Homo sapiens: one gene and its partner. The protein of the gene in region 2 interacts with the protein of the main gene of each other region in a pairwise test. Each region holds a gene or a part of one and is shown on either strand. Other genes may lie near its edges.

Region 1 (4,842 bases), on a different chromosome or scaffold from region 2:
CAGGAAGCCACCGAGCAACTCAGGCATCTTCTCAATTTCCTTACCAGCCACCTGTGTCTTTCTGGAGAAGTCTCCCTCTGTGCACAGATGGAGGCGCACAGCCCCATATCTGTGTTATAATCTGCAGAGAGCAAGCTCTGCAGTCTGGCTGCCCAAACTGAAATCCCGGTTCTGCCACTTGCTGGCTGAGTGACCTTAAGCAAAACCTTTCTGTGCTTCAGTTCCTTTGCCTGTCATTGGGAAGTAACGGTGCCTGCCTGGCAGGGTTTTCATGAGGCGTGAATACGCTCTTGAGACGGGGTCCACCATGTGCACGCGGGAAAGCATGGTGGAGCGAGGATGTAGTCAGAGTCACCGCCGCCGCTGACATCACCACACTGTCGTGATGGAGACCTGGGCCACTGATGCTCTTCATTATGATGCAGTTGCCAAGCTTGTTTCATTGTATCACTTCACAGTTCCATAAGAACAGCAAGGCCAGGTGCAGTGGCTCACGCCTGTAATCCCAGCACTTTGGGAAGCAGAGGAGAGAGAATCACTTGAACCCAGGAGTTCAAGACCAGCCTGGGCAACAGAGCAAGAGCCCATCTCTACTAAAAATTTAAAAACTATTAGCAGCCAGGCTTAGTGGCTCACACCTGTAATCCCAGCTGCACAGGAGGCTGAGACGGAAGGATGACTTGAGCCCAGGAAATCAAGGCAACATTGAGCTATGATTGTGCTTCTGCACTCCAGCCAGGGTGACAGACTGCGATCCTGTCTCAAAGAAATAAATAAATAAATAAACAAAAAGAACAGCTAAGCAAACCGCCTATGATACACACTAAAAAACACGAGTTTTCCACAAAATGACAAGATCACAAACCTTGAGTATTGTCGTTAGCATACTGGATAGTTAAATAAGTGAGCTAACTTCAGAGTTACAACTGACTTCGCTAACAGCCTTCTAAGATGGTTCATGTCTGTCTTTAGGGTGACAAAGGTGCCCCAGGGAGAGCAGGCCTGTATGGCGAGATTGGCGCGACTGGTGATTTCGGTGAGTGTTGCCCGTCCAGTGAAAACAGGGAGTCCACAATTCAGAGCTCTCTGAGCATGTGAGCCAATTTCAGACCTGCAAGTGCTGTTAGGTATTTTAAAACAAATTATTCTTGTTAGGAATATAACAAAATAGAAGTTGCAAAACTCACAAAGTCCCAGTGGAAAGTCCTGTTCTTAGCCGTCTTTTTTGCATGTAACAGGTGACATCGGGGACACTATAAATTTACCAGGAAGACCAGGCCTGAAGGGGGAGCGGGGCACCACTGGAATACCAGGTACGCAAGTTATTTTCCTTGTCTTCATCTTCAACAACAGCCCTGAGCCTTTGTCTAGGAGCCCGACTTGCCAAACAGATCAAATTCAGTAACAACCAGAAAGCACTTGATAGTGAATGAGGTCTTCAAGTCCAATGTGCAAGAAAGACCGTCGTTTTTAATTAAGTTAAATCTGAAGATAAAATCAGGAAGTCTTTCTCTCTCTCTGTCTCTCTCTTTGATACTGAAAAAAGCCAGAATGGACCCTCGGTGGATGAGAATCACTGCAGTCCATAAAGTGTAACTGATGAAAAGCCAGCTAGCACCCTGACTCCCGGAACACCTGAGGGCGTGCAGCAGGTGGTCGCTGACCCGAGCTTCTCAGAAACAGCGAAGGGTCCAGGAAAGGGGGAGTGGGAGTCAGGCCATCGCTTGAGAGAGATATGGAGGCAGCTGACCAGCCCGAGCGAGTTGTGGGGGCCTGGGGCGGCACAGTGCCTCCCTTCCCTTCTGCACATCACTGAGGTTCCACTCCTAAATTCCTGCCTGCAGTGACGTCTCAAGGGGACTGTGATAGTTTTCTTCTTTCTGGGGATTTTCTTTTGGGGGGACCCCACACTGCTCAAGTTGCTGGAGCCCCAGGGGCTTGCAGGGCTGGCCCTGGTGGGAGGGAAGGAGTCTGTCCAGGGTTGGCCAGTGGGGAGACTGCTGGGCCAGTTCTTTATCTAGAAATTGCTCTGGAATGGAAAGACGTGTTCAGTTGAGCACAGGATCAGAGAACCGCCGCTGGGAAATAGGCGCCTCTGTTTACCAGCCCTCCCGGGCTCCTTTGTTATCTGTGACCTGGGCTCCCGGTGGCTTCCTCCTGAGTGACGGGAGCTCTGTACTGCTGAGCCATCCGGCGCTGGGCTGGCTGTGTCTGCCACCCTAGGCCATTAGTCCGGCCATTTGGTTTATAAACACAGAAACGTGGACCATCATTACCACGCGTCTCTAATGATGCCTTCACTTGTTCAACTGAAAATGTGTCAGGGAAGAGACGCTACCCCCACCCAAGAATTATTTTTGCTGTTACCTTTGAACATTTTGGTTTTTGTTAAACTCTGGGCCCAGAAAGGCTTTGGAGTGGAGCCTCCCCTGCATCCATCACCAGAAGACGGTATTTCGGAGCTGTGGTCCCACAATGGAAGGGTGGGGCCAGCTGTACCCATCATCCCTGGGGGTGTCCTGTTTTCCCTAAGACAGTGAGGGGTGCATGGGTACATGGGTGCTGCCTTGGAAGCTGGCTAGTGCAGGCTCAGAGGGAGGAAGTAGGTTAAAAATCAGCTAAGGAAGGAGCACGGTTGGATGCCTCTCTCCATTCCTGAAGGAGCAGCAGTGTGGTTCTGCACATCCTAGAGCCGGGGTTCCAGGGAACCCACAGGGGCGCGGTGTCTGTTTGTTCCAAGCAGCATGTCTGTGGTTGCAGGTCTGAAGGGATTCTTTGGAGAGAAGGGAACAGAAGGTGACATCGGCTTCCCTGGGATAACAGGCGTGACTGGAGTCCAAGGCCCTCCTGGACTTAAAGGACAAACAGGTAAAATCTCCCGCAGCCACACAGCCTTCCTCAGGCAGGCCCTCCGGAGACCCCAGAACAAAGGCGGTCAACATTGTCAATTTCCTCCAATCACACCCAACCCTGGAAGCTCACTCGTGCCTGCTGCCAGCTTAGGAGCTTTCCTCAGTGCTGATGGCATGGAGAGAAACAACCACCTGGGCTGGGGGGAGACCTGAGAATTGGAGAGAAGCATGGGGGTGAATGAGAAGTGCCTCTTCGGTTGAGCCTCTGTCTCTCATATAGAAGCCGACGGTTTGTAAGGGATCCCTTTGCTTGCATTGAATATGCAGAAACCCCTATGAACATCCTAGGTTAGAGAAGGAGAGCGGACAGTGGGCTGGCTTCCCACGCTGTTGCTGCTGCTGCTTTCTGTGTTTACTCAGCACCGGGGAATGCCAAGAGGCTCATCTCTCCAGGCACTGCCTCAGGGTCCTCTCCAGACGTCTATTTGGATAATAGGGCGACAATTAAAACTACACGCTATTTTCTCTCTGGCAAGGCTGAGCAAATCCTATTGAATTTGTATGTGGGGTCTAAGACCACCTGCATCCCCAGCTTGAGGGACAGTTCTAATCTCTCCTCCAACTGGCACTGCGGCCCTTCCGGCCCTCGGCCCCTCCCAGAGCGGCTGCCCCTCCTGCCAGGACCTCACCACACAGCGCCCAAGGTGTCCTGTGTGCTCAGACTTAATGCTGTGTTCACCCCCAGGCTTTCCAGGGCTGACTGGGCCTCCAGGGTCGCAGGGAGAGCTGGGGCGGATTGGACTGCCTGGTGGCAAAGGAGATGATGGCTGGCCGGGAGCTCCGGGCTTACCAGGTAAGGTCACGTAAAACACGTGGTCACCCAGACCCAGAGTCGTGGGCTGTGCAGGAGGCACCGCTGAGCAGGCCAGCCTCTCTCAGGGCGACTTCTAAGGCCCATACGAGAGCAAAGGCAGGTCTGCTGTGGCTTACGGTGGTCTGCACCAACATAGCAGCACAGGGTATACTGGCGCCCCAGGCAACTGGGAATCAAGCCAGATGCACAAATCTGCCCAGGGCTTCACCTCCCAGAAGGATGAATGAAAGCCTCCCAGAGAGGCTTCAGGGTCCACTTGTCATCGCCACACAGGGACGCACAGCAAGATCAGGGTGCAGGAGCAGCCTCAGTGTACCACTGTGCTGCACGGGCCACCCCCGGGGCCTCCTTACAGCCCCGAGACGGGCCACCCTGCCATGCTCACTGCCCATGTAACAGAAGGAATTGCCACCTGTTTGCTGTGTCCTGCTTTAGAAATATTTACCCTCAGAAATCCAGAGGGAATGGAAATGACACCGGGCTATTTGTTCCAAGCAGCTTTTACAAACCAAACATACAGCAGTGGCGAGGCGTCAAGAAGAGGCATGGGACATGTCACTCCCCAGGCCCCTTCTGGCCTAGTGAGTCTGTTAAAAAGATTCTATGAAGACAGTGTTCCAGTTCAATGGTGTTCCTAGGTAACATAAGAGTGCTTAGTTTACATGTCGTGTAAGTTGAGCGTGTGGCTTAGCTGCTTCCTATTTGTGGGGCTTTAGCAGGATTGTATGGGTGACAGTATCAGGTGACAGTTTCAGAGCCAACAAAACACATCTGAGTTATCTTGAGGGTTTCTCCCACCCAGAACCCCCTGTGCTGTCCCACACATGAAATAACAATGAGTGACACCCCCACAGGTGAAATAACGATGAGTGACACCCCCATGGGTGAAATAACGATGAGTGACACCCCCATGGGTGAAATAACGATGAGTGACACCCCCGCAGGTGAAATAAATAACGATGAGTGACACCCCCGCAGGTGAAATAAATAACGATGAGTGACACCCCCGCAGGTTTTCCGGGACTCCGTGGGATCCGCGGCTTACACGGCTTGCCAGGCACCAAGGGCTTTCCAGGATCCCCAGGTACTCTGTGCCGTCCCAGCCCCGAGTCCCAC
Region 2 (5,191 bases):
AACCTGGGAGGCAGAGGTTGCAGTGAGCCAAGATCCTGCCACTGCACTCCAGTCTGGGTAACACAGTGAGACTTTGTCTCAAAAAAAAAAAAAAAAAAATCAAAGTTGCACACCAAATTCTTGAAGAGTTTGTTTACCTCTTGAAGAAAAGTAAGAAATTAAAGGAGAACTTCCATTTTTTACTTGAGGGCAAAAAGAAAATGACCTATTTCTAGAAAACACATAGAAACACATAGTAAAGGTTATTTCAAATATTCAGTGCAATTTACAATTCATTTCATTTCAGATTCTTTCTTTGAAATTTTTTCTAATAAGAGTAACAATACAATTCACCTACCATTTCCCTATAATGATAAATAGAAACAAAAAATACATTAAATACCAATGTACTTATTTAAAAATAATTTTGAATTTTCTTTTTTTCTTTTTTTTTGAGACAGTTTTGCTCTGTCGCCTAGGCTGGAGTGCAATGACGCGATCTCGGCTCACTGCAAGCTCTGCCTCCCAGGTTCAAGCAATTCTCCTGCCTCAGCCTCCCGAGTAGCTGGGACTACAGGTGCCCGCCACCAGGCCCGGCTAATTTTTTTGCATTTTTAGTAGAGACAGGGTTTCACTGTGTTAGCCAGGATGGTCTCGATCTCCTGACCTCATGATCCACCCACCTCGGCCTCCCAAAGTGCTGGGATTACAGGCATGAGCCACCGCGCCCAGCCTAATTTTGAATTTTCAAAGATAATCTATGATTAACAAGAAAGCCTGAAAATAAAGAAATAAATTCGTGGTCAGGCACAGTGGCTCACACCTGTAATCCCAGCACTTTGGGAGGCTGAGGCAGGCAGATCACTTGAGGTCAGGAGTTCGAGACCAGCCTGGCCAACACTGTGAAACCCCATCTATACTAAAACTAAAAAAATTAGGAGGGCGTGGTGGTGTGAGCCTGTAGTCCCCGCTACTCGGGAGGCTGAGGCAGGAGAATCGCTTGAACCCGTGAGGCGGAGGTTGCAATGAGACGAGATCGCGCCACTGCACTCCAGCCTGGGTAACAGAGCAAGACTCTGCCACCAAAAAAAATAAATAAATAATTAAATTCCCATGTCCTAGAATAGTGCATGGCATATAGTTGTTGAATGAAGAAATGAATGAACAAACGAACAAATAAATACCAACTCACCTGGGGTGTAAAAATGAATGTGTCTGAGAAACATGGTCACCTTCCTGCTTTATAACAGGATACCATGACTGTAATTCCATTCCTGATGGTGCATCTGTCTGCAGAAAAACATGGAAGGGAAACATTTATTGAAGTAAAACTGTGAAGGTTAATTTTATGTGTCAACCTGACTGGGCCACTGGGTAAAGACAACTAACATTATTTAAGAGTCATCATGCCACGCACAGTGGTTCACACCTGTATTCCCAGCACTTTGGGAGGCAGAGTGGGGAAGATTCCTTAAGCCGTGGAGTCAGCCTGGGCAACATAGGAAGACCCAGTCTCTTTAAAAAAAAAAAAAAAAAAATTAGCCAGTTGCAGTGGTGTACATCTGTGGTCCCAGCTACTTGGGAGACTGAGGTGGGAGAATCCCTTGAGCCCAGGAAGTTGAGGCTTGCAGTGAACCATGATTGAACCATGATTGCACCACTGCACTCTATCCTGGGCAAGAGTGAGACCCTGTCTCAAGAGTCATCTTCCAATAAGGCAGTCTTCCCTTGAAGAAGCCTGATTATCACCTGAAACTCAGAGACACCCACATGAACTATCCCATCACAAGAACAGTTTCAGTATGCATGCTAACATGGAGTACCAGAAATGACTGCATCAAATTTCATACTTACGAAATCTATTTTATTTATTTATTTTTTTTTTTTTTTTGAGATGGAGTCTCGCTCTGTCACCCAGGCTGGAGTGCAGTGGCGCGATCTTGGCTCACTGCAACCTCCACCTCCCGGGTTCAAGCGATTCTCTGCTTCAGTATCCTGAGTAGCTGGGATTACAGGCACCCACCACCACACCCAGCTAATTTTTTGTATTCTTAGTAGAGATTGGGTTTTGCCATGTTGGCCAGGCTGATCTCAAACTCCTGACCTCAGGTGATCCCTGCTCCTCAGCCTCCCAAAGTGCAGGGATTACAGGCATGAGCCACTGAGCCTGGCCAGAAATCCATTTTAAATAATAGAACTCTATAAAGGTATAGCACTGGAAAATTGATTCTTATTCCTGTACTACAATCGGCTAGACTATACCCTATCCCTACAGTATTTGTTAGCATATTAGCTAGATACCATTCTACAGCAATACTTTGCCAAATTAAATCCAAAACCACATAGTTTGCTAACACTTGTCATTAAACTATATTTCCTAATAAATATAAAAAGGATTTTTTAATACTTAAAGATGAGCTATAACTAAAAATAAAGAAAAATAAGGAGAAAGGTAACTGGTAACTTAATGAACATCTACGGGCTGAGAACTTTATACATCATTCTTAATTCTAACAAATATCCCCCATTAAATAGGTATCATTACCATTTTACAGATGAGAAAACAACTGACGTTCAGAAATTGAAGAGGGGCTCGGTTCAGTGGCTCACACCTGTAATTCCAGCACTGTGGGAGGCCGAGGTGGGTGGATCACCTGAGGTCAGGAGTTCGAGACCAGCATGGCCAACGTGGCAAAACCCCATCTCTATTAAAAACGCAAAACTTAACGAGGCATGGTGGTGCGCTCCTGTAATCCCAGCTACTCGGGAGGCTGAGACAGGAGAATCACTTGAACCCAGGAGATGGAGGGTGCAGTGAGCCAAGATCATGCCACTGCACTCCAGCCTGGGCAACAGAGCAAGAATCGTCTCAAAAAACAAAACAAAACAAAAAAAGAAATTGAAGAGAAAAAAAGAATAAATGATCTGTGGTTACTAACTTCTCCCTTATTTTGGTTTACTTTATTTACACTTTGTCCTCCCTTCATCCCCTACATATTTCCTATTATACGAAATTACCTTGCTTTTGTGGGAAAAGGATACTTAAAAGGGGGGGCAAGACTCACTGGTAAGGGAAAGGGGAAAGAAGGAAAGGAGAGCTGAAATGTGGCATGGTTAAGGTGACCAACAAAAATAGGAAGTTAACAGACAAACCCAGGAAACTGAGGGAGAATGCGATTAGGAACGAGTTAAACAAGGGAAAAAACAAAAAAGAGAGCTGGATATTTCTCTAAACCCTACCTTTAAGAGGTTCCATGGCCAGGCGCAGTGGCTCATGCCTGTAATCCTAGCATTTTGGGAGGCCGAGAAGGGTGGATCACCTGAGGTCAGGAGCAAGACCAGCCTGGCCAACATAGCGAAACCCAGTCTCTACTAAAAATACAAAAATTAGCTGGGCGTGGTGGTACGAGAAGGGTGGATCACCTGAGGTCAGGAGCAAGACCAGCCTGGCCAACACAGCGAAACCCAGTCTCTACTAAAAATACAAAAATTAGCTGGGCATGGTGGTACGCACTTGTAATCCCAGCTACTCGGGAGGCTGAGGCAGGAGACTCACTTGAACCCAGGAGGCGGAGGCTGCAGTAAGCCGAGATTGCACCACCGCACTCCAGCCTGGGCAACTGAGCCAGAATCCATCTCAAGATAAAAAAAATAAATAAATAAATAAATAAATAAATAAATAAAAGAAGCTCCAATTCTGGTCGGGTGCAGCAGCTCATGCCTGTAACTTTGGGAGGCTGAGGGAGGTGGATCACCTGAAGTCAGGAGTTTGAGACCAGCCTGGCCAACATGGAGAAACGCCGTTTCTACAAAAATTAGCTGGACATGGTGGTGAGTGCCTGTAATCCCACCTACTTGGGTGGCCGAGGCAGGAGAATCACTTGAATCCGGGAGGCAGAGGTTGCAGTGAGCTGAGTTCGCGCCACTGCACTCCAACCTGGGTGACAGAGCAAGACTTTGTCTCCAAAAAAAAAAAAAAAGAGAGAGAGAGAGAGTCCAATTCCCAATTCAACAAATTAGGAAAGTAGCAAAGCTGTTTTGCCTGATGTCCCAATATTCCAGTTTGGAACCAAGAAACTAAGGACTGCAAACAGATCTCTGGATGTTAAGCAGTAGTGATTAAAACAAAATCAACTCTAAACTATCCAAACTCTGGTTTGATTACTGAGATCCTACTAATGGAGGAAATCAATGAGAATGAAGAAACCTGGGAGAGATCTGACAAGTAACCCACTGCCCTCAACAAAACAGGCTGAAAACAGAAAGGAAACCGCTCTTAGAATATGTATCTTAAAATCTGATCAGTCAGGAGATGACTTAGGGCCAACTAAAGGACAAAAATAGGCAGGGCACAGTGGCTCACGCCTGTAATCCCAGCACTTTGGGAGGCCAAGGCAGGCAAATCACGAGGTCAGGAGTTCAAGGCCAGCCTGGCCAATATAGTGAAACCCTGTCTTACTAAAAATACAAAAATTAGCCAGGTGTGGTGGTACGCACCTGTAATCCTAGCTACTCAGGAGGCTGAGGCAGGAGAATCGCTTGAACCTGGGAGGTGGAGATTGCAGTGAGCCGAGACGGCGCCATTGCACTCCAGCCTGGGTGACAGAGCAAGACTCTGTCTCAAAAATAAAAAAAGAAAAAAATATGTATGTGGGAGATCTTTATTTTTGTTAAGAATTAGGCCAGGCACAGTGGCTCACACCTGTAATCCCAGCACTTTGGGAGGCCAAGGCGGGTGGATCACGAGATCAGGAGTTCAAGACCAGCCTGGCCAAGATGGTGAAACCCCGTCTCTACTAAAAATACAAAAAAAAAAAATTAGTCGGGTGCGGCAGCAGGCGCCTGTAATCCCAGCTACTCAGGAGGCTGAGGCAGGAGAATCGCTTGAACTCAGAGGGCGGAGGTTGCAGTGAGCCGAGATCGTGCCACTGCACTCCAGCCTGGGTGACAGAGTGAGACTCTGTCTCAAAAAAAAAAAAAAAAAAAAAAAAGAATTATTGAGCAATGAATTTGAAATACTAATAAGACCTCAAAATTATAAGAAAAAAATTAATATTTTTAAAAGATTTAAGAGTTGAATATTCAGTGAAGGTCTCTACATGATATGTAAATGTGGAATTAAAAAAAAAAAAAAAGGCCTGGGCACAGTGGCTCATGCCTATAATCCCAGCACTTTAGGAGGACAGGAGAATCAACCGAAACAGGGGAACAG

Evidence for each region. The genes of interacting proteins can lie anywhere in the genome.
Region 1: the proteins of SKIL (region 2) and COL4A2 interact in a two-hybrid assay, tested with the Homo sapiens proteins (one large-scale study listed by BioGRID and IntAct).

The regions. Positions count from the first base shown.
Region 1 is NC_000013.11:110,488,473-110,493,314, forward strand, and holds part of COL4A2 (collagen alpha-2(IV) chain preproprotein), read left to right. Parts: intron 1-972; coding exon 973-1,036; intron 1,037-1,238; coding exon 1,239-1,313; intron 1,314-2,760; coding exon 2,761-2,868; intron 2,869-3,597; coding exon 3,598-3,705; intron 3,706-4,738; coding exon 4,739-4,810; intron 4,811-4,842. UniProt on the Homo sapiens protein: Type IV collagen is the major structural component of glomerular basement membranes (GBM), forming a 'chicken-wire' meshwork together with laminins, proteoglycans and entactin/nidogen.
Region 2 is NC_000003.12:170,377,322-170,382,512, reverse strand, and holds part of SKIL (ski-like protein), read right to left. Parts: intron 1,270-5,191; coding exon 1,172-1,269; intron 1-1,171. UniProt on the Homo sapiens protein: May have regulatory role in cell division or differentiation in response to extracellular signals.